Homo sapiens: one gene and its partners. The protein of the gene in region 4 interacts with the protein of the main gene of each other region in a pairwise test. Each region holds a gene or a part of one and is shown on either strand. Other genes may lie near its edges.

What was found.
Region 1: the proteins of MAGEB4 (region 4) and NEUROD4 interact in binary tests that used the Homo sapiens proteins (3 or more experiments, as listed by UniProt).
Region 2: the proteins of MAGEB4 (region 4) and ACOT11 interact in binary tests that used the Homo sapiens proteins (3 or more experiments, as listed by UniProt).
Region 3: the proteins of MAGEB4 (region 4) and H2AP interact in binary tests that used the Homo sapiens proteins (3 or more experiments, as listed by UniProt).

What each region holds. Positions count from the first base shown.
Region 1 is NC_000012.12:55,015,065-55,022,987, reverse strand, and holds the start of NEUROD4 (neurogenic differentiation factor 4), read right to left. Parts: upstream 3,015-7,923; 5' UTR 2,675-3,014; intron 1-2,674. UniProt on the Homo sapiens protein: Probably acts as a transcriptional activator. Mediates neuronal differentiation. Required for the regulation of amacrine cell fate specification in the retina.
Region 2 is NC_000001.11:54,551,228-54,558,227, reverse strand, and holds part of ACOT11 (acyl-coenzyme A thioesterase 11), read right to left. Parts: intron 1-7,000. UniProt on the Homo sapiens protein: Has an acyl-CoA thioesterase activity with a preference for the long chain fatty acyl-CoA thioesters hexadecanoyl-CoA/palmitoyl-CoA and tetradecanoyl-CoA/myristoyl-CoA which are the main substrates in the mitochondrial beta-oxidation pathway.
Region 3 is NC_000023.11:37,986,067-37,991,828, forward strand, and holds H2AP (huntingtin-interacting protein M), read left to right. Parts: upstream 1-4,712; 5' UTR 4,713-4,773; coding exon 4,774-5,127; 3' UTR 5,128-5,248; downstream 5,249-5,762.
Region 4 is NC_000023.11:30,237,264-30,244,705, forward strand, and holds MAGEB4 (melanoma-associated antigen B4), read left to right. Parts: upstream 1-4,736; 5' UTR 4,737-4,872; coding exon 4,873-5,913; 3' UTR 5,914-6,924; downstream 6,925-7,442.

The DNA of each region.
Region 1 (7,923 bases), on a different chromosome or scaffold from region 4:
TTCATGTTAAGTTTTAGGTATTGTTCTCCTAAACATCACCATGAATTTTTCTGGCCACTTGGACAAGAATAGGTATAATTAGAATCTGTTATTAATATTGATTTTGCATCAACAAAAGCCAATGGCTTCATTTCAACATCTATTTGAAAAAATTCCCCAATACACCTACTCCTCCAGTCTCCTATTGAAACTGAAATCAAAGTTTCTGTTCTGTAGCAAGAGGTAAGGAAACCAAGCCCTATCAACTGCCTCCACTGAGTTGACTAGAACTCTTCCATCATATTCAAGATGGAAGTTAGCTCCCAAACTTTCACTCTGTTTTATAATTGGGAGAAAACAGTTAGCTTGACACTCCTATTCAATCACATACATTTTCAGATTCATGAACCTTCTGTATTGCGAATACAATTTTTCCCACCAAAACCAAATGGCAGAGCTCTGAGGATAATATGCAGTGTCTATCAGAGAGAAGTGAAAGCAGTGAAAGCCAAGACTCCTGAAATATAAAGAAAAATGTTTATCTGACTTTTTTCACCTAAATATTTTCAATGCATCAAAAAGGTTAACAGGAAAAAAATAGAAACATCTAGTTTTAAATTTGAGTGTTGAAAATATGTGTACTGTGATCACACATACTGATCACAACAAAAGTTGTGATCAAAGAAACCAAGGGTTGTCTCCAGAACAGGTGCCTAAATCTAATGTTGCTTTCAGCCTGTTAAGGAACCATCTCACAGGTGTACTGAAAGAAGCATGGAACCAAGACTGTTTCATCATTCACTCATTAAAGGAGCACAGAAAAATTATTGTAATTATTGTAATTTTTGTACCCTTAGGGCAAAATGAAAATAAGATTGTCTTTGCTACATCATTTAGAAGTTTTCATGAAAAATAAGGAGATAATGCAAGCACAAGTACTTTGTAAAATTGTTATGCCAATGTGAGGGTTGGCAATTGTTTTACAGAAGCTGTTTGAGAAAGTCTGTAGCACTATCTCACAAAGCATCATGATATACCATCTTAAGGTTGCCTCAATTCCTAGGAAAGAAATTAGCTCACAAATTACATAGGAAATAGGCTCGAACATGACAAAAATCAATGAATACTGGCTCAAGGGGCAGAATCTGGCCCTTCCCTACACATACACATAAACACATTCTGGTCTTATAAAGTCCATTTTTAGCCATTTGGTATTTGGATTTTCTTTTATACCTACACAATATAACAGAATTTTCCTCGTTCTATAGGGTCTTTCAGTGAAATTTCAAGTTTGGCCAATTCTCTTTAATTCAAAATATTTCTCATATTTTTAAAAATTTTAAATCTGTTCTAGCAAAGTGTTTGCTTAGGCAATGATTGTTACTACTGAATATTTTTACTACTAGGGCCAAAGTCGTTAAGCATTACTACTATGTGAAGCTATCCTGGAATTCTTTCTACACTTTTACAAATTTTTTATTTATTGTGGAGATATTTCAACTAATTAATAGGTAAGGGGAACTCACATGTGGATTTGTGGTAGTTAGATGGTGTCTTTCCTCTTAAAAGCTGGTGATAATCTCTTTACCTCCTGATCCGATGACTAAATACAACAGAAAGGGGGCTGTCCAGCCCAGTTTCTAGGAAATCTAAGAACTAAATAGACTAAATTCTTTTCCCAGAGTTGCACAGTCTTGGCACTAAAAAGACAGAATCCAAATCAGGATGTTCACAAGTTGTACTGCTTGGAAAAAGCCAGTAGTTTGCTCTATGCTCTTCTTTTCTACTCTACTATTTTCCCCTTTATTAATATATGTGCACATGTATGTACATGCATGCACATACACACACATTTTGTCCAGCAAAGCCATGTAATACTTCAGGTGCCATTGCCTCAGATCTTAATAGTTAACAGAAGTTATTCAGTCCCTTATTTTTCCCTGCATGTTCTTCAGCATTTCACCTCTGCTTCCTCTGTCAAAAAAATGGGGGTGGGTATTTTACATTTAATTAGTATTTTCTGAGTATACTTTTTTTGCGGGCAAATGATGAGTGTGAAGCAGAGAAAGGAAAAATATACTTGGACAATCTTTTTCTTCTAATTTCCCATCTGAAAGAGCTGAGGAAAAGGAAATTTCCCCCACCCTGTGCCAACTATTCAAGCATTTTTAGTAAACAAAATAGTTAATGGTGAGAATCTACCCCGAGGATTTTCCACAATCTTCTCTGATTCCTCATTCTGTTTTCCTTTCCCTGCCTCCCCCTCCGTCCTTGCATAGCCCTAAAATGCTGTGAGCAGAGTGGTGGATTGGGTCAATTCTTCCAACCTACTTGCTGGGCCACCTTGGAAAAGCAGTTAAACTTTTCGACATTTTCACCACTAACAAAATGAAAGAGTGGCTTTGACAGGAATTGGGGGAGATCATCTGTATTCTTCACTTTATTAAAATGATTGTGAGTGTCTATGTGTTTCACTTTGGGTGGCAAGTGCTATAAAATTTAATAAAATTATTTAAAATGTTTATATTTGTCCCTAAGTGTTCCAACTCACTAGCTTCTACATTCCAAGTTTCCTAAATCTCACTTCCTCCTGCCTTACCCAGAAGAGACTTTCCTCACCCCAACTGCTCCTCTAGGTGAGTGGGAACTTCCCACAGAAACTTTAGCCCCCTTACCACCCCAACCACTGGCTCACCTCGGTCACTGGCCGTTCCTGGAGTGAACTCTGTGAATCTGCGTCTTAGAGGACAGTCAGAGAAGCCAAGTCTCCCTGACCATCCAGATGGTAGAAGAGACGCTTTCAGCGATCCATGTCAAACCCGGTTGTTACCTCTTAGAGATTCCACCGGGTCTGGTTTCTCTGCCTGCTCCTTATTCTACTCCTTCCTTGGAGTTCCGTATGCTCCTCAAGGACGCCTTCGGGCTGATCTCTCCGCTGCAGCCAGTTTAGTCGCTCTTCAGTACCTCCTCTCCCTGGTTAGCTCCCCGGAGAGGAGCTTTCAGGACCACAAGCCTCTGGGCAGCTCCTGCTCTCTGGCCGGAGCCTCTGACTTGCTGCAGTTTTGATTGCTCTCCCAGCTGACCAGGGAGGAGTGATGTTGCCCAGAGTCTAACTCCTCCCTTTTCCCCAGCCGAAAGACACGCCCACTTGAAAGGCTCCTCCGGCCAGGTCCAGTTTTGCCGCCCGTTTGTTTGTTTAAATAGAGATGGGGGTTGGTGGAAGGGGAGCAGGGGAGGAGAGTTGCTGAAGTTAAGGAGTAAAGAAAAAGAGGACTGGAAACCTTTGTGATTAAAAAGATAAGAAATGGGAGCGGAGTAGTGTGGACAGAATGGAGAAAGAAAATTGGGGATAGACTTGGAGAGAGAGCTAAAAAGGGCAGATGACGCTGCTGACCCACGTCTGAAAAGAATCAAAAGGTGAGAAAGATGCGTGTCAAGGACACAGCATCAGTGGCTGCTTCCTTACACATGTGGACTGGGGTCTTTGGCTTATAAACTTCAGCGTTCTAAAAGTAGAAGGAAGAAGTATGTCTCTCCCACCTTTTCAGCACGTCAAAGCTACTCTCATTAAAACTTTTAATTTGTGAATTTAGGTGAAGCTATATTTGTTGTGCTATTCTTTCAACTTTCTGATCACTTTAAATTTATAAAAACAAAAAGGAAATTAATAAAATCCTTCATTTTAAGGGCAGTTAGTTCCTTGAGTTACAAACTGAGATCTACTATTGTTTTTCAAAAATACATCATTAAGCATTCACGTAGAAAAAGTCCACCTGAGTAGTAATAAGCTTAGAAGAAGAGAAGGCTCATAATAATTCCTAAAACTCCTTTGGTATTAGGAGGTTGAATTAAATTGCTAGAAGACAGAAAGAAAACTACATCTGGAATAATTTAAGTATATAGATATTCATACTATCTTATTTAAAACTACACCAAGGAAAAATAAATGATTGTGAACTTAAGATACCAAAGATTTTCTAATCATCTTGTGTTTCCAAGAAGGAAAAAGAAAGGTGCTCAGATTAAGCAATTGGCTGAATGATCTTGAATAAGTCAACTTCACTCTGGGCATCAGTTTTCATATCTGTAAAATGAGTTTTTCCATCAGTAGCCTGATAGAGTTACGAATCCAAGTTCAACTTCTTTTAGAAATTGACTTGAAGGATAATTCCTCAGGCGTTTTGGCAAAAGGCAAAACATTTATACAATCTGAAAAGAAACCAGAGTATCCCCAGCTTTTTGAGAATCGCGTGGTCTAACAACATAACTAGCACATGCGTCAAACAGAAATGAAAAACTATTAATATGCCTGTGTGCAAGGAAAACTGTAGAGGGCTGAAACAAAAGATAGTTTCACTGCTCATAAAGTTGAAAAGAGTATCTTAAGTTTGAAAATAGTTATTTTTAATTCTGATATGTGTCATATGACTCTTGTTTTTCACAGAAAACAAGAAAATAAAAATTAACACTTTTTTCAGTTTTCATGGGAAGTTATTTATTTTCAGCAGCTCTTTAATCTCTTACTTATCTTTATTTGTATCCCTATCCAGAAAAATATCTGCTCAGGAAAATAAACTTCATTTTCAGAATAATTAAACAACACATGATGGGAATAGCAGATCTCTAAAAAACAAATCAGAATTCACTCCTCGGCCACAGGAAATTTATCTATGAGGTAATTTATGTCTAGGATAGAGGTGCTTAATCATTGTTCAATGAGCGCTTACTGAATGAATTGATCTCCTGCTTTGTGTCTTCAAAGCCCTGTCCATGGATATTTAGAAGTTGATGGCACTGATGCCTGTGAAATTTTCAGGGGCAGGGAGTAATAGCAGATTAGCAGAAAGGTGAACATATTGAGACAAAGATGAGGGTGGGGATAAAACATTCTGCAGGATTCCTTGCTTTCTCTGACAGATGTAAGGGACTGGACACAATAGGATTAGCCTTCAAAATACATTCGTGTGTGTGTGTGTATGTGAGTGCACACACACACATACACAAGCGTACATGAACGTGCACACCCCTGAAGAATGGGGAGGGAGTTGTGAATGCCAAATTTTCTTTAAGAGCTGCTTTTTGCAGAGGGATGGGTTGAATCTATTTCATCAGGGTCACCCTCGTCACAACTCATTGACAGTTGTACAGTTGGCTGTTCAACTTTGAGAGGGCAGGAAGGGGCAGGAGGGGTGTGTGCTGTCAGCAAAGGAAAAGGGGTGGTGACTGCCCTAGGAAAGGAGAATACAAGGCATTTGCATGCATTCTCCTCCCCCCACATGGTTCCTGGGCCAGAGGGCCAATCCCCAGCCCTTCCTTCTTTCTCTGCTGCTTTTTATAAAGCTCTGAGCTAACCTGTAAGAACCATCTGCTGAGTGGGGAAAAGGAGACCAGTACTCAGTTGCTGGCCCACAGGCCTAACGCCCGGGAGCCATTGAAGCAGAGAGAGGGGAGGCAACAGGCAGATTTATGAGCAGCAATCTGTTCCCCCCCTCCCCCAAGGACCCTTTGCCAGGAGACAGCCTGATAATCCATCAACCCCACTAATGAATTAATTAGTATTCCCAGTAATCCTGACCCCCAAAGGAGACCTGCCTGTGGGCCCCTAAGCGGGGTAGAAACTGCCTTCTTCAGTCAGACACTGAAGACCTGAAACCAATGTCTGACATTAGGCCCCAGGGTGCTAAGCCTCAAGCCACGGATCCTGTTGCTGATGGTCCCCAGATGTCTCTCCTTCTCACCTTCCCATCGGAGATCACTAGCTTCTGCTGAATTAAAATCAAATGCGACCAACAAATGGAGTCCAGGGACATATATCAGGAACTGTAGCGAGCAAGAAGGTGGACTTCCAAGGAAGAAATGATTCGGGCTGCCCATCTTCAGGTTAGACTTGAGCAGAACCTAAAGTTGCTCTCCAAGTTTTAGGCACTGGGGCCTGGGATGGGGTTGGGATGGGGTGAGGGCTGGGGGAGAAGGTAAATAAAACATAGTCCTTGACCTCGAGAAGTTCAGCGTTCCAGTAGGGAAATAATACAGGTTCAAAAATAATTGTGAAACAGGTTAAAACAAAAAGTGATTTGTGACATGAACCTCTCCTGCATAACGACTAGAGAAAAACACAGAGGTGTCAGTTGGGTTTATGAATAGTTTGGAGAATAGCATCAGGGAGATTCAATAACCTTCCCTTACAGTAGCAAAGTGAAGTGCTTCATTCTTTTCAAAAACTCCGTAGTGAAGTGGGGTCGGGGAAAAGCTTAGGACTAAGGAATCCTGGGCTCTAAATCTTAGTCTGCCTCTGTGTGGCTGTGATGAGTTATCTAACCTCTCTGGCCTCACATTCCTCATTAGGCAATGATCAGCTTGGGTTATGATCTCTCAGAATCCTTCCAGCTCTGATACTCAATGATATAACATAGTTAAGTGTCACAATTCTTTTTTGAGGGTGAATAATACTGGCCCATTCAAAGGTATGGAGACAGAGTCCCCAGGTTTGAATAAAGCAATATATTAGGTTAATGGCAAAAGTGGGTCTAGAAACCAGGTAATAAATTTGGGTGTCCTCTTTCCATCTAGATTACTGGTCCCTGTTGAGAAGAACACTTGATTCAACCTTCTCACACCACATTCATTCAAGAGCTATACATATGGGCATTCACAGGGTATACAGAGTGGCTCATTCATTATGTAGTTTTTAGCTACACAAAACTGCCTGAATTTGTTCAGATCTGCTGGGGAAACTTCTCTACCTTTAAAAGCTCTGTACCATCCTCCAGCGTCCATTTCTGCACTTGCCATATCTAATTCCTAAGAGCAAGGTCCTCTAGGATTCAATGGAATCCTTGAATCATAACATTGACATTTATTAACCACGTGACTTCAGACAAGTTATTTATCTCACTGGGCCTCAGTTCTTCTACCTGTAAGCTGGAGGTAATACTGCTTATTCAATGAACTTGCTCTGATAAATATGTATGAAATAATACATGCAAAGTACCTAGTATACAGTCTGGCACTTAGCAAGTGCTCAATAAATGATAGTTATTATTGGTATTTTATCTTAAACATTTAAATCAAATTTGTATGTCTTAGAAATCAAAGAAAAGCTATTATCAGGATCTCCTTAAAAAGGCCCTGTTTTTGTGCTCCTATCTCAATCCAAGTATTCCTTTATTATAATAATGACCACACTATTAATTTACCCCACAAATGCATTTTATGCCTATATAAAGTCCCAGGCACCGTGCAAGATTCTGGGACTACAGAGCGCTGTAAGACTTCTCATTCCTAACCAACTTTCAGTGTAGTGGAAGAGGCAGTAAACTAAATATACAAATATACCTAAAACCTCTTCTCTGTGTCTGACTTTCTAACATAATGTGCCCAGGGAGCTATTATGTATCAGAGATATTAATTGCAGCATTGTTTTTAATAATGAAAAAGTTTATTATCAATACATTAAGTGACCAGTGGTTTAGCCAAAGTAAGATATGCCATTTATCTATACTAACAAAAATATACCACATATACTAACATGCTTAGGGGGAAATATAAAACCATTATAGAACTATAGGTTCAATATGATATACTTATTTTTTTAATGTATACACATGCATCAAATAATACATATAATTTACAGATACACATATACACACACACGAACTGAGAACAGTGGGTCTTTATCTCAGGAAATCTCAGAACTGGCATGAAATACATTGAGATCAGGTAGTTATTGAGGGAAATTGTTTTTTTTTTTACACAAGTATAATCTATTCATATGTAACTTGTGAATGCGAAATTGATTTTAAAACATAATTAAAATATGCTATCTTTAAAATCCTATTCCCCACTCATAGCCAAATTTATTTTCAGGAAAGGATCTGATAGCCACCCCCTACATCACCAATCACTGGAATATATATATAAGCTGATATGACTCTTTCATGAAAA
Region 2 (7,000 bases), on a different chromosome or scaffold from region 4:
ATCTCTCCTGCACTAGCTGTCAGCTCCAGGAAACAGGCTATATATATCATTGGCCACAGCATACCCAGCACTGGCTAACTGTTAATCCCCCAGTACAGTAAGTACCCGTGGAGGGAACGAGTGAAGTATATACAACATCCTGAGGAGACGTCATTAACTCTAGGGACAGACAAGATGAGGATTCAAAGGGGAAATGATAGCCCAGCTGGGTTTTGAAAGATGAAAAAGAGTCCTCCACTGAACAGGGAAAAGTTGAAAGCTTTTCATCTAAAATGTGGGATAAAACAAAGATGCCCACTTTTACCACTTATATCCAACGTAATACCGGAAGTCCTAGCCAGAGCAATTAGGCAAGAGAGAGAAATAAAAGGCATCCAAATTGGAAAGAAGGAAGTTAAATTGTCCCTGTTTGCAGATGTCATAATCCTATATATAGAAAACCCTAAAGCCTCCACTAAAAAACTGGTAGGAATAATAAATTCAGTAAAGTTGCAGGATACAAAATCAACATACAAAAGTCAGTAGTCTTTCTATATACTAATAGCAAACTATCTAAAAAAGAAATCTGGAAAACAATCCCATTGACAATAGCTACGAAAAATAAAATAAAATAAAATACCTGAGAATAAATTTAACCAAGGAGGTAAAAACCAGGAGTGGTGGCTCATGCCTGTAATTCCAGCTACTCAGGAGGCTGAGGTGGGAGGATTGCTTGAGCCCAATAGTTTGAAACCAGCCTGGGCAACATAGCAAGACTCTATCTCTTAAAATGTTTTTTTCAGTGCACACAAGGGTAGATAAATAATTTAATTTTTTTCTTTTTTTTTTTTTTTTTTGAGATGGAATCTTTCTCTGTCACTCAGGCTGGAGTGCAGTGGCATGATCTCGGCTCACTGCAACCTCCGCCTCCCGGGTTCAAGCAATTCTCCTGCCTCAGCCTCCTCAGTAGCTGGGATTACAGGTGCGCACCACCATACCTGACTAATTTTTGTATTTTTAGTAGAGATGGGATTTCACCATGTTGACCAGGCTGGTCTCGAACTCCTGACCTTGTGATCTGCCTGCCTTGGCCTCCCAAAGTGCTGGGATTACAAGCGTGAGCCACCATGCCTGGCCTAAGTATAAAAATTTTTTTTAATTTTTTTAAATAAAAAATCTGCCAGGTGTGGTGGCACATGCCTGTAGTCTCAGCTACTTGGGAGGCTGAGGCAGGAGTATCATTTGAGCCCAGGAATTCATAGCCACAGTGAGCTATGATCAGACCACTGCGCTCCAACCTGGGCAACAGAGGGAAACACTGTCTCTTAAAAAATAAATAAAGGAGATGAAAGATCTCTACAGTGAAGACCAGATGCGATGGCTCACGTCTGTAATCCCAGCATTTTGGGAGGCCAAGGTGGGCGGATCACCCAAGGTCAGGAGTTCGAGACGAGCCTTGCCAACAATGGTGAAGCCCTGTCTCTACTAAAAATACAAAAATTAGCCAGGCATGGTGGCACACACCTGTAATCCCAGCTACTCGGGGGACTGAGGGAGAAGAATCACTTGAACCCAGGAGGCAGAGGTTGCAGTGAGCCAAGATCATGCCACTGCACTCCAGCCTGGGCTACACAGTGAGACTCTGTCTCAAAAAAAAAAAACTCTACAATGAAAACTATAAATCATTAATGAAAGAAATTGAAGAAGATATAAATGAAAAGATCCCATGTTCATGGATCAGAAGAATTATGGTGACAATGTCCATACTACTCAAAGTGATCTACAGATTCAATGCAATCCCTATCAAAGTGCCAATGACATTCTTCACAGAAACAGAAAAAACAAGCCTAAAATTCATATGGAACCACAAAAGACCCCAAATAGCCAAAGCAATCTTGAGCAAAAAGAACAGAGCCAAAGGCATCATACTGTACTACCTGATTTCGAAATATACTACAAAGCTACATTAACCAAAACAGTATGGTAGTGGTATAAAAACAGACAGACATATAGACCAATGGAACAGAATAGAGAGCTCCAAAATAAATCTACACATTTACAGCCAACTGATTTTCAACAAAGGTGCCAGAACACACATTGGGGAAGGGACAGTCTATTCAACAATTGATGTTGGGAAAACTGGAAACCCACATGTAGAAAAATGAAATCAATCCCTTATCTCTCACTGTATAAAAAAATCAGGCCAGGTGCAGTGGCTCACACCTGTAATCTCAGCACTTTGGGAGACTGAGGCGGGTGGATCACCTGAGGTCAGGAGTTCGAGACTAAGCTGGCCAACATGGTGAAATCCCATCTCAACTAAAAATACAAAAGTTAGTTAGGCGTGGTGGCATGTGCCTGTCATCCCAGCTACTTGGGAGGCTGAGGCAGCAGGAGAATCACTTGAACCTGGGAGGCGGAGGTTGCAGTGAGCCGAGATCATGCCACTGCACTCCAACCTAGGCGACAGAGTGAGACTCCATCTCAAAAAAAAATAAAAAATAAAAAATAAAAATGAGTTAAAGACTTAAATGTACGACCCCCAAACTACAAAATTACTAGAAGAAAACATAAGGGAAACACTTCATGACGTTGTGCTAGGTAAGAATTTTTTGGATAGGGTCTCAAAAGCACAGGCAACAAAAGCAAAAATAGATGTGATTTCTTTATACCAAAACACTTCTGCACAGCAAAGGAACCAATCAACAGAGTTAAGAGACAACCTACAGAATGGGAGAAAATATTTACAAACTATATATCTGACAAGGGGTTAACATCCAAAATATACAAAGAAGTAAAACAACTCAATAGAAAAAAAAATTAAAATGGGCAAAAGACCTGAATAGGCATTTCTCAAAGGAAGCTATACAAATGTCCACCAGGTATATGAAAAAAATGCTCAACATCACTAATCATCATGGAAATGCAAATCAAAACCACAATGAAATAGCATCTCATACCTGTCAGAATAGCTACTATCAAAAAACCAGAGCCAGACGTGGTGGCTCACGCCTGTAATCCCAGCACTTTGGGAGGCCAAGGCAGGTGGATCATGAGGTTATGAGTTCGAGACCAGGCTGACCAACATGGTGAAACCCCATCTTTACTGAAAATACAAAAAATTAGCCAGGCATGGTGTCGCAATGTCTGTAATCCCAGCTATTTGGGAGGCTGAGGCAGGAGAATCACTTGAACCCGGGAGGCGGAGGTTGCAGTGAGCCAAGGTCGTGCCACTACACTCCAGCCTGGGCGACAGAGTGAGACTCCGTCTCAAAACAAACAAACAAACAAACAAAACCAGAAGACAATATGTGTTGGCAAGGATTTGGGGAAAAGGCAACCTTTTGACACTGTTCATGGGAATGTAAATTGGTACAGCCATTATGGAAAACAGTATGGAGGTTCCTCAAAAAATTAAAAATAGAATTACCATATGATCCAGCAGTCCCACTACTGGGTATATAGCCAAAGGAAATGAAATCAGTATATTGAAGAGATACCTCTACTCCCGTGTTTATTGCAGCACTCTTCACAATAGCCAAGACATGGAACCAACTAAGTGTCCACCAGTGGATGAATGGATTTTTTTAATGTGGTATAAAGCTGGGTGTGGTGGCTCAAACCTGCAATCCCAACAGCCAAGGGGAGAGGATAGTTTGAGGCCAGGAGTTCAAGACCAGCCTGGTCAACATAGAGAGAACCCATCTCTACAAAAACTTAAAAAAAAAATTAGCTGGGCACAGTGGTGCATACCTCTAATTCCCAGCTACTCAGGTGGCTGAGGCAGGAGGCTTGCTTGAGCCCAGGAGCTCGAGGCTGCAGTAAGCCATAATTGCACCACTGTATTCCAGCCTGGGTGACAAAGCAGGACTCCATCTCAAAAAAAAAAAAAAAAAATATATATATATATATATACACACACACACACACACACACACACACACACACACACACACACTATGGAATACTATTCAGCCATAAAAATAAAATAAAATCCTGCCATTTGCAACTACATGGATGAACCTGGAGTATGTTATGGTGGAGTTTTTTTTTTTGTTTTCTTTTGTTTTTGTTTTTGTGTGTGACAGGGTCTGGCTCTGTTGCCCAGGCTGAAATGCAATAACTTCAGCTCACAGCAACCTTCACCTCCCAGGCTCAAGCCATCCTCCCACCTCAGCCTCCCAACTAGCTGGGACTAGAGGCGCGTGCTACCACACCTGGCAATTTTTGTGGTTTTTGTAGAGATCGGGTTTTGCCATGTTGCCCAGGCTGGCCTCGAAGTCCTGAGCTCAAGCGATCCGCCCATCTCAGCCTCCCGAAGTACTGGGATTATGGGCACGAGCCACCTCCCCCAGAGTATGTTATATTAAGTGAAATAAGGGCCAGGCACAGAAAGACAAATACTACATGACCTCACTCAGACATCAATCTTAAAAAGTTGATTTCATGGAAATAGAGTATAATGCTGCTTATCAGAGGCAGGGGTTGTTGGGGGGATGGAGAGATCTTAGTCAGAGGATGCATAATTACACTTAGGAGGAATAAATTTCAAGAGATCTATTATACAGTAAGGTGATATGGTTAATGACAATATATTGTATTCTTGAAAAATGCAGAGTAGATGTTCTGCACTATCACCAAAAAAATGAAAACTATGTGAGGTAATGTATCTGTTAATTAGATTTAGTCATAACATAATGTATACGTACTTCAAAACATCATTTGTACATGATAAAAACATAGAATATTACCTGTCCATTTTTTTTTTTTAATGTTTTTTTGAGACAGAGTCTTGTTCGGTCACCCAGGCTGGAGTGCAGTGGCGCGATCTCGGCTCACTGCAACCTCCACCTCCCAGGTTCAACTGGGCACATCCAGCTTATTTTTGTATTTTTAATAGAGACACAGTTTCTCCATGTTGGTCAGGCTGGTCTCAAACTCCTGACCTCAAGTAATCCACCGACCTCGGCCTCCCAAAGTGTTGGGATTATAGGTATGAGCCACCATGCCTGGCCCATTAAAAAAAAATTTTTTAATGAGGTAATCATTCCCTTATGCTATGCATATTAAAATAAAATTTTGGAGAGCAAAAAAAGAGTCCTCCAGATAAATTAAGAACACTGGCCGGGCATGGTGGTTCACGCCTGTAATCCCAGCACTTTGGGAGGCCTAGGCGGGTGGCTCACCTGAGGTCGGAAGTTCGAGACCAGCCTGACCAACATGGAGAAACCCCATCTCTACTAAAAATGCAAAATTAGCCAGGCATGGTGGCACATGCCTGTAATCCCAGCTACTTGGGAGGCTGAGGCAGGAGAATCGCTTGAACCTGGGAGGCAGAGGTTGCGGTGAGCCAAAATAGCACCACTGCACTCCAGCCTGGGCAACAAGAGCGAAACTCCGTCTCAAAAAAAAAAAAAACAAAACAAAAACAAACAACAACAACAACAACAACACTAAGAGTGGGCCGGGCATGGTGGCTCATGCCTGTAATCCCAGCATTTTGGGAGGCCAAGGCAGGCAGAACACCTGAGGTCAGGAGTTCAAGACCAGCCTGGCCAACATGGTGAAACCCCGTCTCTACTAAAAATAGAAAAAATTAGCCGATGGCACGCACCTGTAGTCCCAGCTACTCAGGAGGCCGAGAAATGAGAATCGCTTGAACCAGAGAGGTGGAGGTTGCAGTTAGCTGAGATGGCACCACTGTACTCCAGCACTCCAGCCTGGGAGACAGAGTGAGACTCTGCCTCAAAAACAAACAAACAAAAAAAACACTAAGAGTGTCTGCCCATGGCTGAGGCTGGGGGTTCACATATGGCTCCTGAACAGGCTGATGCTACATGTTCAAGTCTCACCTCTTCCTCCAGGAAGCCTTCTAGGACCACCTCAGCCTGCTTCTGAGCACCTGTGGTCACTCATTCATTCAGCAGTTTTGGGACTCCTCGTATATGATAGGCCCATCATTTTATGTCTAAGGTCTCCCCACCTCCAACACAGAGTAGGGTCCTCAAGAGAGACGGGACCCTGCCTCTCACTGTCAGGATCAACTTCATGGTGGCAGACAAACCCTTCACAAACATTCAGAGCCCCAGGATGTCCAGGCTGGTGGGGACCTCAGGGATCACCCAGCACCCTAAGGCCTAGAGAGAGGAACCCCTGGCCAAAGGTCACACCGTGAACCGTGGGGTGAACATCCAACTGTTGTGCCTGAACCTCCCCACACTCTGGGTTAGACCCCTTATGAAGCTGAGAGGTTGTGGGGAGCCCTCCAGCTGTCCTCAGGTTCAAGGTAAAACAGTAGGATTGCATTGTGTGGTTGGAGGCTAATACAAAAATTAGCTGGGTGTGGTGGTGGGCACCTGTAATCCCAGCTACTCCGGAGGCTGAGGCAGGAGAATTCCTTGAATCCAGGAGGCAGAGGCTGCAGTGAGCCAAGATTACACCACCGCACTCCTGGGTGACAGAATGAGACTCCATCTCAAAACAAAAACAAAAACAAAAACAAAAACAAAAACAAAACAAAACAAAAACAAAAACAAAACAAAAACAGCCAGCCCCATCACCATTTCTGGAGTAAAAAAAGCTTCTGAGCCCCACTGAGAGCTGACCTGGGCCAGGCTAGACCTGAGGCTGGGCAGAGGTTCCCAGGCTTCCCAGGACCCTTGCCCACCTCCTACGAGGGCACCAGTGGGTCCCTGCTAGCCCAGAAATGTGAGACTCAGTGCCCAGTGTAGACTGACATCTTGGAAAGGGAAAGAAGAGCTCTCCACGGGGAGAGGCAAGGATTGAAGCGGGACAGGGAGACCTTTCCCGCACCACCACACTGCACTCAGCAGTTCTCCCAGCCCCGAGCGTGGCAGCAGGCTGACCACTTCATTCAGTCGCCCACTCACTTGCTGGGTACCCAGGGGCGAGTAGGGACCAGAGCCCTTGAACTCCAATGCTGACTCTGTCTACAGTGCCACAGGACACTGAAAATGGCCCCCAACCATGCAAAGTGGGGCTTGTGGATTATCTGAGACCC
Region 3 (5,762 bases), 7.7 Mb from region 4:
CATAGGAAAAAAATCTTCATGACCTCTTTTTGGGCAATCGATTCTTATATGTGAAAAAACACAGGCATCAAATGAAAAGAATAGATAAATCGCACTTTATTTTTATCAAAATAAAAACTTTTGTGTTTCAAAGGACACTATTTTTTTTTTTTAAAGAAGGAAGGGCTTTATTCAGCCAGGAGCTTCGGCAAGACTCACGTCTCCAACAACTGAGCTCCCCGAGTGAGAAATTCCTGTCCCTTTTAAGGGCTCATGACTCTAAGGGGGTCCACATGAGAGGGTCGTGATTGACTGACCAAGCACGGGGTATGTGACTTGGGGCTGCATGTACCGGTAATTAGAACAGAACAGAACAGGACAGGGATTTTCACAGTGCTTTTCTATGCAATGTCTGTAATCTTTAGATAACATAACCGATTAGGTCAGGGGTCGATCTTTAACTACCAGGCCCAGGGTGTGGCACCGGGCTGTCTGCTTGTGGATTTCATTTCTGCCTTTTAGTTTTTACTTCTTCTTTCTTTGGAGGCAGAAATTGGGCATAAGACAATATGAGGGGTGGTCTCCTCCCTTATTCCCCCGCTTTGAGAACCTCATTCAATAGTGGAAGTTCTCACTTTTATTCTCACTACCCATGTCTTCTTGCAAGACAGATCAATAGTGATTCATATAGTACACTTGTGCTGAAGCATTTTGGTGAACTAAGGTAGTGATGAAGCTTTTTATCATTTGAAGAAGTACAGGTAGCAAACAAGGGAGCAGTAAGCAGGTTTCTATTACTATTATAACTCATAAGAGTTTTAAATCTTTTTTTATTATTATACTTTAAGTTCTAGGGTACATGTGCACAACATGCAGGTTTGTTACATATGTATACATGCGCCATGTTGGTGTGCTGCACCCATTAACTCATCATTTACACTCTCATTTTTTGCACTCAGGTTCAGCATACTTACTAGCTTTCATTTAAAACATGCCAAATACTTTACTAGTCTGGGGATTTGTCCATGGAATGTTATTTATCTTACCACTTCTCTGACTCATTCCTTATTCTTGTGACAGTTCTAAGGTTCAGTGTCATTTCAACATTCCTCCATAACCCTATGTAAATTACATCCTTAAAATAACATTTAAAATAACATTTTAAATGTGAATAAGTGATTATCAATTGAGAATAATTTTGTCCTCTGGCTACTTTTTGACATCACAACTGGAAGATGCTACTATCTAGTGGATAGGGGCCAAGGTACTGCTGTCCTTTTTTACCAGGAACAGCCTTTATGCCACAAAACAAAGAATTATTCAGTCCAAAATGTCAATAGTGCTAAAGTTTATAAACTCTGCTTTTGATCATGCACAATAAATTTGAAATACATATTTGTTTGGGTGTTTGTTTTAACATCTGTCTTTCCTACTAGACTGGATGTTTCATAAGGATGAGATAGATAATGCCTAGTTTGCTTAACATTGAATATCCAGCATCAACCTCAGTGTCTGATGCCAGGTAGCTACATGAAAGGATGAAACAGCAGGCATGAGGTAAGAAGAAAAGGAAAGGCTTTATTAGGAGGGTATACAAACATTTCTGGGTATAGAAGATGCTGTCAGTGCCCTGTCCATACTCCAACAGCTCATACCATTTAAGTAGATATTTGCCTGACTTTCAAATGTCAGAACCCTTATTTCTTTGTGTGAGACCTTTCATTAGGTCATCAGAGCCCACTGTGCTCAATAATATGACAGTCCAGAACAGTGGGACATCATCTGCCCCTGGAAGATGTGTTTACTACAGCGTTCTCTAAAGTTTTACAGTGACATTAGCTGCTTGATAACGAATACTTTGTTTGCTTCCTTTCCTTCTCTGTCTCAATTCCTCTCTTCCCTGCCAGAGTTTCCTGGGAATAACTCCTGTGATAGGCCGAGTAATGGTCCCCAAAGATACTTAGATCCTAACCCCTTGCACTTATGAATGTTGCCTTATATGGAAAAAGAGAATTCACAAAGATGATTGTGGAAGATGGGAGATTATTCTGTATTATCTGATAGAACCTAAGGTCAATCACACAAGTTCATAAAAGAGTGAGGCAGAGGCGAATTTGACACAGAAGAAGGAAATGTGACTACTGAAGAAAAATGCTATGCTGCTGGCTGTAAATAGGAAGGAAGGGGCCCATGAGATAAGGAATGCAGCTCTAGGAGCTGGGAAAGTCAAGGAAACAGACCCTCCTCTAGAGTCCCCAGAGGGAGTATGGCAATGTTGACACCTTATTTTCAGCCTAGTGAAACTGATTTTGAACTTCTGACCTCCAGGTTTGTAAGATACTAAATGCGTGTATTTTAAAGCTACCAAATTTATGGCAATTCATTAGAGCAGCCATAGGGATCTATCACAATGTTTGGTCCCTGGAAGTGGGTTGCTGCTATAAGAAATATCTAAAAATGTGGAAGTGGCTTTGCAACTGGATAATAGCTATAGACTGGAATAATTTTCAGGAGCATTATATAACAACCTTAGATTATGTTGAACAGATCATTAATAGAAATATGAATGTTCAAAGTGTTCCTGGTGAGAGCTCAGACATGAGGAACACAGTAGAGAAAGTCTATATTGTCTTAGAGAACACCTAAATTATCATAAACAAACTATTGATAGAAATAAAATGTCAAAGGTGTTGCTGGTGAATGCTTAGAAAGAAATTAGTAACATAATATCAGAAAAGGGAGTTTGTGTTATATAGCATCAGAAATCCTACCTGAATTGTGCTCTACAATTATGTGGAAAGCAGGACTTGTAAGCAATGAACTTGAATATTTAGCTGAGCAGATTTTCATGCAAAGGATTAAAGGAATGGCCTGTTTTTTATTGCTGTTTATAGTAAAATGCCAGAGGAAAGACATAAATTGAGGGAAGAACTGTTAAGCAAAAAGAAACCAGAATTCAATGATATGAGAAATTTTCAGCCTATCCAGATTGCAAAAGACACCAAAATTAGGAAATTCATTGCCACAAAATCATCCTCCAGAGATAAAATCAAGGGCGTGGCTAGACATCCTTTTGTTAGTGCCTTTAAGGGATCAAAAGATCAAAGTATTCAATCACATAGATGGTGTTTTGAAGAGATATGGGGTGTGCTTCTCAGAATAAGCAAGGAATAGAGATGGGATTTTCTATGAGGGATCTTGAAGAAGCCTCTTGTCTAATGGCATGAATCCCCATGACATACATAAAAGGCCTGTAAGTTTTTGACAATGTTATATCAGCAGAAACAATGCCAGCTTAGACTGAAAGGGACAAATAGAGGAAGAAATGAAAGAAGTCTACAGGACTCTCAAAATTTGACAGGAGGAAGCAGGCTGATAAAACTACTCAGCTGTAAACATATGCTACCATTCAAAATAAAGGAACAATGACTGAGGGCAGAACCTAGAGGCCAGAGGGCAGATTTATGACCCCAGGTGAAGTCATAGGATCAGAGTCATCAAAGGGAGGAGTCTCAAGCCTTAGAATATTCTCAGGCCTTGAAACCTAATGGTTGGATTTTGAAAATGCTTGGATTTGAGACTCCTTTTTCTTTCCACTTTTTCCCTTGTGGAATGGCAAAGTTATTGGCTGTAAATGAACCAAAGTCAAAGGGAAAACACAGAATTAGTAGAGAAGAAAATTAAATAATAGAAAAGAAACATCTCTTAGTGCTTTGGCTTCACCTAGGAGGGACAAGAAATACACATCTGGGCTTAAACTGAGCACAAGATGCACTTCTCTATCAACTGTTTACCTGGCACTGACAGGTAAACTTATTGAACATCTTATTATTATTATTATTTTTGAGACCGAGTCCCGCTCTGTCTCCCAGGCTGGAGTGTGGTGGCACGATCTCGGCTCACTGCAAACTCCACTTCCCGGGTTCACACCATTCTCTGGCCTCAGCCTCCCAAGTAGCTGGGACTACAGGCGCCCGCCACCACGCCCGGCTAATTATTTTTATTTTTATTTTTATTTTTAGTAGAGACGGGGTTTAACTGTGGTCTCGATCTCCTGACCTTGTGATCCACCCACCTCTGCCTCCCACAGTGCTGGGATTACAGGAGTGAGCCACTGCGCCCGGCTGAGCATCTTATTATTAATTGAAAAATGACTAAAATATATTTTTCAAATGGGGTAAAATCATGACACTCATACAGATATGAAATGAACACATGCTAAAAGAAAAAGATGTTATGACTGCTTCAAAAGGGAAACCAAAGAGTTGATATGGGAATATTCATCAGTAATATTAAATGATTGTGTAAATGGAGGCAAAACTGGTTTCATAAGGTGAAGAACAACCGAACCTCTACTAAAGAATATGCTGTACATGTATCAGCAGCCTACAACTAACAAAAGGCTATAAAAGACTTCACAGATAATGTAAGGCTGGAATCAGATAACCTGCAGTGGTGTCCTAAAGACAGAGCAAAGTTTTCCACTGAAGCACACATTTATTTTTATAATGTCAAAATCAGGTAGAGAGTTATAGTTCCCTCAAAATCAAGGTTCAGTCATTAGCGTGACTAGATCAGTGTCATAGACATTTCTAGGCTGAGGTCTGATAAGGGACCAGTGGACACCAATGAAATCACAAAGTCTAGGGATGTCACAAAGGCAGCTAGCTCCCTGACCAATAAGGGCCTGGAGCAGAGGGATACAATAGGCAGGACTAAGCACTAGTGTCCTCAGAGACCTACTTGAGCTAGAGAATCAAGCAGAGCTGATGAGAGCCAAACCCAGCAAACATCATGTCAGAGAAAAAGAACTGTAAGAACTCGTCTACAAATAACAACCAGACTCAAGACCCTTCTAGAAATGAGCTACAGGTCCCTAGGAGCTTCGTGGACCGCGTTGTGCAAGATGAACGAGACGTCCAAAGCCAGAGTTCCTCCACAATAAATACCCTCCTTACCTTGCTCGATTGCCTTGCTGACTACATCATGGAGCGGGTAGGCTTGGAGGCCAGCAACAATGGCAGTATGCGCAACACTTCACAAGATAGGGAGAGAGAAGTGGACAACAACCGTGAGCCCCACAGCGCTGAGAGTGATGTGACTCGCTTTTTGTTTGATGAGATGCCCAAATCCAGGAAGAATGACTGAAGACTGGGTCCCAGAGCCTTGAAGGGAACCTCACAGGCTTAGCCAGGGCAAAAATGTGTCACAGCTGAGGAATATCTGCTGTTGTCATCAACAAGTGCTATTAAAGGATGTAAATCCATGAGTATGTTTCTGACTCCTCTCAGTTTCTGTCGCTTTGGGTTGTAGGTGTCTGTAAGACATCCAGGGGAAGCTATCCCCAGAGAGCTGAAGGCGGGGAAGGGGTGGCCAGTGTGGTGTTTGAATCAGTGATTTAGAGGGGGCAGTTTCCAATGGTGACAGTGAGGGCGCCGGCCCTGTGGGGAGGAACTGGCTGGGATAAAGACACCGAGACTTCCTCATTGTCTCTGAACAGGAAGGCCTTGTGAGGCCAGGGAGTTGGCTGGGGGCCTCTGAGGCTTGTTGAATTCCCAGCCTGATGCTGGGGCCTGAGGTGGAGCTGCAGACTCTGACTGAGGTGCAGGAGGCTTTATTCAGGATAGCAAAGGTCTGAAGTCAGAGGGCGGTGGCCACAGGGGTGGGTGGAGAGGGGCACACTGGCTGGCATGAAGTTCATGGGACAGGGGCTTTACATGGAGATTGAAGAGTGAAGGAGAAACCATCATGAAAAATGCAAAAAAGAAATGATGGCCTGCTGG
Region 4 (7,442 bases):
AGATAACTTGGAATTAGAATAAGCATTTCCTTGAAAATGTTTAAAAAAAAAAAGTCAGCAGTAAAATGTATGGCATTAAGAAATAGAGAAAGAGTGTAAGATGGTCAATATTTGGTTTCCTAAATGCTTTTACTCTGTGCTTTAAGAAAATGAAAGATAAATAACCATATATGTCTGGCTTACTTAAGAATGTAGAATTAAATCATAATAAATTAGACCTCATGCTGACACACTCATTCTCCAAGTGTTAATTGAGCATCTGCTCTTGGAAGGATCCATGCTAATACTGGGAGGGCTAAGAAAAAGAAGACCTAGCAACTGACCTTAAAATTATAAGGTCGAGAAGCAGCTATCATCTAAGGAAAATGGTGATATACACTCTAAGACCAAAAGGATACATGATAAGAAGGGAGGGAGGTGGTTCCACATGAGAACAGTCAAGTATGAATTATCTAATCAAGGCGGTGTTGGGCCTAAGGAAAGTGCAGGTCCCTCAATGGGAGTTAATCTAAGTGAGGCTCCATGGTGGGCTGGATGAGGCTGTGGGAATGGCGAGCAGGGGCCAGGCTCTTAGAAGTTGCCTCTCACGCAGTGGCGGGCGCCTGTAGTCCCAGCTACTCGGGAGGCTGAGGCAGGAGAATGGCGTGAACCTGGGAGGCAGAGCTTGCAGTGAGCCGAGATTGTGCCACTGCAGTCCGGCCTGGGCTAAAGAGCGGGATTCCGTCTCAAAAGAAAAAAAAAAAGAAGTTGCCTCTCAGAGGTGCGAGACAAAGCTTGGAATAGGAAACAGTTCTTAACAGTTACTTTGGGATCATGGATAAATCAGGGAGAATCTGGGGTAGGAATGTGTCCTGTGCTCTTGTCCCAGTACAAATAAACACAGCACACACTAGGTGTTTTGTGCACATCATCTCCAGCCAGTTTCTGAGAAATAAGGGTAATACCCTCAAGGGACGGGGGAGGCCCAGAAGCCACTGTGCTGGTACTCTTTGCCCTGGGCTGGGGGATCCAGAGCCTGTTCCATTAAAAGCGCATTCAATTAGGTTACCTCATTTGTGATTTGGCAAACTCTAGGCAAGGTCTAGATTTTGAGAGGTGGTTAAATGAATCAAAATAAAAGTGGTTTAGATGGAAGGATAGCTGAGAGAGAGGGAAGTTTTTGGTCCTTGAAACTCATTTTAGAATCTGTGTTGCATCTACTGAGGAAGTCTACCTCATACTAATATTGAATGATCTATCAAGTAATGAGGAAATATTATTTAGTTTTCCTTTCTAGGTAGCACTTTGTCTGATAGGGCTTTCTTTGTCTTAGAATATGGTATAATCTCTGACATCTCCTGCATTGAAAAATAAGTCCCAGTGTAGTAGATTGCAACGTCAGGGTACAAATTAATCATAATAAGAACTGGCACTATTATATGTCTCAATACATCTCAAGCACTTTACATACATTGTATACATTTTACCAGTCCTACAAAACAGAGCTTATCAAACCCACTTCACAGATAAAAAGCCTGAAGCCCACAGTCTATTAATATGTCCAATTTCACATGGCTGGTAAGTGACAGGACTGGGACAAGACCCCCAGTCTGAATTAGTGTAAAGCACACTCTGTTCCATGCCTCCCAACCTGAGACTGACTGTGTCCCCTTATTCACTTTTCTTCTCACTACTCCCAAACGTATATCAAGTGATGAAAAGATTCTGTACCCAATCTGCTGGACTGAAATACAGAACCAGAGCAAGGAAATTACCAAAATGGTCAAGAGGTGTGAATTAAGGAGAGAAAGATAATATTTGGTGACAATAAGATTACACATGCAAAGTCAGATAAACTCAAAAGATCATGGGGTCACATTCTGTCATTCTGGACTGTCCCCCTTTTTATAGGAAGTTAAATCTTTTCCAAGAGAAATACATAAGAGGGTAGTAAAGAGAAGAAATAGATCAATGTTTTTTTTTTTTTTTTTTTTTTCTCTGACAGTATGACTTCTATCCTCGGGCTTCTGCCTTGTGTTACAGCTTCCCTATCTTATATCACTCCTGGGACAGGGATGCATTGTCTGCAAGATTTATTATAGGGAAACTGATCAAGAATTTTTAGGGATGCGGCATTTCCCAGGAAGTCATTAACTAAGGGACAAGAGCCAAGATAAAGACCTTCATATAGGAGGACTCAGCAGAACAACATGCCAGACAGAGTTCTTAGCCTGAGCATCTCCTCACTTATTCTTCAAGGTTCTCAGGGACTTGTGAGTTCCTGCATCTCGGGTCAGTAGAGGGAGGAGTGCCATTCTCTGACACATACCAAGTTGAGGACCCTGAATGAAGAATGAGGGAAGCACTCACCCAAATAGCCTTAACAGGATGTGGCTGAACCTGATTTCTACTCCGGAGGTCTTAAGAAGGTAAAGACCATGATCTGAGGCTGGCTGACTCAGGTCCATAGAGGAAGGATTCCTAATGTGTGCCAGGAGTAAAGTGAGTACCCTGAAGAGTGCAGGAACCACCAAACCCCTATCAGTGGGGATCCCACAGAATCCTCCCTATTGTCACCTCTGAGAGATTTAGGCATGAATGTCAGAAAGAGGCACCCTCATATCCTCAGTAGTAACAGAGAAGTGAAGGTCTTGTTCTGAGGTGGGCAATCCCAGCTCAGCAAAGGGAGGAATATTAAGCCTTCCTGTGAGTGAGATTTAGGATCCTGAGTTAGGACCTGAGTAGGACAATCCACCATAAGACCTCAACCTGTCTACCACAGCTGCCACTCTTGGGAGACCATGGTCAGCTGTGGCCAGATAAGGCCACCCTCTTCCTCCTATCTGATCTCAGGGAGGTGCAGGCCTTTTAAATGGAGAGGTCTTCAGGTCAAAAAAGAGGGGAGCCCTAGGATCTGCTAGGAGCCAAATCAAGGAAACCGAGTGAGAACTGAGGGGACTGCTCACCTCTGAATAGAGAGAGCAACAGAGTCCACCCCCCTGCATAACTCTTAAATTGCCAGGGCAACATGTAAGGCTGAGGACTCACCATCACTTTTTTTTTTTAATAATTGACCTTCTTTTTTAGAATAGTTTTACGTTCACAGCAAAACTGAGCAGAAAGGAGAGTCTCACAGGCATCCTGTCCTCCCACAGACACAGCCTCCTTCATATCAACCTCCCAAGCCAGGGTGATACATTTGTTACAATTGAGAATACATGGACACATCATTATCACCCAATGTCCGTAGTTTAGGATTCATTCCTGTTGCTGCACATTCTGTGGTTTTAATATTTAAAAATGTATAATGACATATGTTTACCACCATAGAATCATCCAGAATTGTTTTACTGCCTTAAAAGTTCTCTGTGCCTGATCTATTTATCTCTCACTCTCCCCAACCTTTGGAAACCACTGAACTTTGTACTGTTTCCATACTTTTGCCTTTTCCAGAATGTCATATAGATGGAATTATGCAATGTATAGACTTTTCAAATTGGCTTCTTTCACTTTGTAATATGTATCTAAGTTTCATCCATGTCTCTTTGTGGCTTGATAGTTCATTCCCTTTTAGTGCTGAATAATATTTTATTCTGTTAATTTATCCACTCTCCTTCTGAAGGACATATTGCTTGCTTCCCAGTTTGGGCAATTATGAATAAAGCTACTATAAACATTTGTGTGCAGGTTTTTTTTGTGGACATACCGTTTTCAACTCATCTGGCTAAATAACAAGGAGCGCACTTGCTAGATCATATGATGAAAGTATGCATAGCTTTGTAAGAAACTTACAAACTGTCTTCAAAAGTGGCTGTATCATTTTTCATGTCCATCAGCAATGACAGTGTGCTCCTGTTGCTCCACATCCTCATCAGTATTTGGGGTTATCAGGGTTTTTGATTTTGACCATTCTTATAGGTATGTAGTGGTATCACATTATTGTTTTAATTTGCAAGTCTCTAATGATATGTGATGTTGACCATCATTTCATGTACGTATTTGCCTTCCATATATATTATTTGTTGAGGTGCCTGTTTAGATCTTTTGTCCATTTTTAATAGGGTTGGTCAGTTCTTATTGTTCAGTTTTAAGACATTTTTGTATGTTTTGGTTAACAGTCCCTTATCAGATATGTCTTTTGAAAATAATTTTTTCCCAACCTGGGAGTTATCTTATTCTCTTTGTGGTATCTTTAGCAGAGCAGAAGTTTTAATTTAGCGAAGTCCAGATTATCAATTATTTTCTTTCATAGATGCCCATCACATTTTATACCAGAACTAGAAAAGATGAAATTCTTGGTCTGAAGTTGCAGTTATCAGTCAGCAGAAGAGACAGTCCACAACCCTGCTTGGAGTCCAGATGAGGATCCTGAGTGCAAACTTGGGACCTAAAGAGCCCAGGACAGAGAGAGCACTAAATGCTTCTAGGCAGGGGTGGTGGGTTGAGGGGCCCCTAGACTTCCCTCATCTGGGTCCCAGAAAACTAAAGAGTCAATTTCACAACACCAATAGAGGGAGGCTCAGGCCCTGCCAAGAGCTGACATGACAATTCTAAAGGTAATCAGAGTGGATCCTCTCCAAGCCAGAACACAGAAAGCCCCACTGCGAGCCTTGTTGTCACCCAGTCAGCCCCAGGCAGGGTTGGCAAGCTGCAGCCTAAGGCACATTGTAACTTCCTCAGCTGGCTTCTCAGGGGACAGAATGACTAAGAACAATAGCCCAGTGAATACTTAGAGCAGTGTTCTCAAGGAATCCTGCAGAGGCGGCTTCTGAAAAGCCAAGGTAGTATCTGCCTGCTGAAGGTGTTCTCAGGATTTCATTTGCTCTTCTCCAGGAACCACATCACCTGCCCTTCTGCCTACACTCCTGCCTGCTGTGCCTAACCACAGCCATCATGCCTCGGGGTCAGAAGAGTAAGCTCCGTGCCCGTGAGAAACGCCAGCGGACCCGTGGTCAGACCCAGGATCTCAAGGTTGGTCAGCCTACTGCAGCAGAGAAAGAAGAGTCTCCTTCCTCTTCCTCATCTGTTTTGAGGGATACTGCCTCCAGCTCCCTTGCTTTTGGCATTCCCCAGGAGCCTCAGAGAGAGCCACCCACCACCTCTGCTGCTGCAGCTATGTCATGCACTGGATCTGATAAAGGCGACGAGAGCCAAGATGAGGAAAATGCAAGTTCCTCCCAGGCCTCAACATCCACTGAGAGATCACTCAAAGATTCTCTAACCAGGAAGACGAAGATGTTAGTGCAGTTCCTGCTGTACAAGTATAAAATGAAAGAGCCCACTACAAAGGCAGAAATGCTGAAGATCATCAGCAAAAAGTACAAGGAGCACTTCCCTGAGATCTTCAGGAAAGTCTCTCAGCGCACGGAGCTGGTCTTTGGCCTTGCCTTGAAGGAGGTCAACCCCACCACTCACTCCTACATCCTCGTCAGCATGCTAGGCCCCAACGATGGAAACCAGAGCAGTGCCTGGACCCTTCCAAGGAATGGGCTTCTGATGCCTCTACTGAGTGTGATCTTCTTAAATGGCAACTGTGCCCGTGAAGAGGAAATCTGGGAATTCCTGAATATGCTGGGGATCTATGATGGAAAGAGGCACCTTATCTTTGGGGAACCCCGAAAGCTCATCACCCAAGATCTGGTACAGGAAAAATATCTGGAATACCAGCAGGTGCCCAACAGTGATCCCCCACGCTATCAATTCCTGTGGGGTCCAAGAGCTCATGCAGAAACCAGCAAGATGAAAGTCCTGGAGTTTTTGGCCAAGGTGAATGACACCACCCCCAATAACTTCCCACTGCTTTATGAAGAGGCTTTGAGAGATGAAGAAGAGAGAGCTGGAGCCCGGCCCAGAGTTGCAGCCAGGCGTGGCACTACAGCCATGACTAGTGCGTATTCCAGGGCCACATCCAGTAGCTCTTCCCAACCCATGTGAGATCTAAGGCAAATTGTTCACTTTGTGGTTGAAAGACCTGCTGCTTTCTCTGTTCCTGTGATGCATGAATAACTCATTGATTTATCTCTTTGTTGTATTTTCCATGATGTTTCTTAAAATAGAAAGTTTATTTAGATTCAGAATATAAATTTAGAAATGGCATGCATCACACATTTATTGCTGTTTATCAGGTTGGTTTAGTGATAATAATTTTGTTTTTGAAATACAAATAGAAAATCCTGAAATAATTTTTGTGATACAGAGCAAAATAACACGGCATGGGAGTAAGGTTATCCTTAGAAATTTAAAATAACTCCACAGTAAAATAGGTAGAATCTGAAGATAGAAAGGGAAGAAAAGTAAAAGTTGCTTTATTCGTGGTTTGTCTTACTCAGTTCAGTCTTTTTTTGCTCATAAATTTAAAAGTTACATACCTGGTTTGCTTAGATTATTCAAGAATGTGGAGGCCTGGGCCAAGGTCAATGACAGTGTCTCCATTGTCTTCCCTCCATTAAGAGAAGACTTTAAGAGATGAGGGAGAGAGAGCCAGAGACAGTGTTGCAACTGGGCCTGGCATGTTTCAGTGTGGTGTCCAGCAGTGTCTCCCACTCCTTGTGAAGTCTGAGGTATATTCTTTACTTTTGATTAAGAAAACACTTAACCTTCTAATTAATGGAGAGCCAAAGGGGAGTTGGTGGGAACACCATGTATAACATATTTGTATGTAAAATGATTTATCTTTTCTTTTTCCTGTTTTTCAGTGTTCTTTTTTTAAATTGTAGATTTATTTAGTTTCAGAATCTAAGTTTATGAATGGCATGAATCACTCATTTATTAAAATATATCAGGTTGGAGAGTGAGAATTTTTGCATTATGTAAAACAATTTAAAAATCTTTTAAGTCTTTTTCTGTGATCTAGAACAAGATAATATGGCATTGGAATATGGAATTTGTGAAAAGGAAATTACCTTGCAATAAAGTTGGTGGGACCAGGAAGTAGAGAAAAAAAAAGTAAAATGTGGTCAATTCTTGCTTTGTTTTATTCTTTTTAGTCTTTCTTTGTAAAACTGAAGTATATGTACCCGGATCTGCTTAGCTTTTTCAGGAATGTGGGGGAAATTAAATAGCAATACATTTGACTTCCTGGTCACTTACACTTCAATTGTCCAAATATTAATTGAGCAGCTGTACTTTGGAGGGCTCCTGGCTAGTACCGGATAAGCTAAGAAAACAAAAAACAAACAAACAACAAAAAAACCCCAATCCCTGCCCACAGAATTTTAGAATCCAACAGCAGCTATCATATAACGAAGGTAATGAGATACTCCTTAAGACCTAAAGACAGGTGAAAAGGGGATAAAAAAGAAGGTGGGGGTATTACCAGCAGTGGAATCTAGTGTAAATGTCCTAAGCAAGGTAACTGAGACTTCGGGAAACTGAACATACTGCAATAGGAGGTAATTTTATGTCCTGGCATAGTGCCTATATGGGGCGCACTGAGCAGGGGTCACACACTCAGATGGTGGATC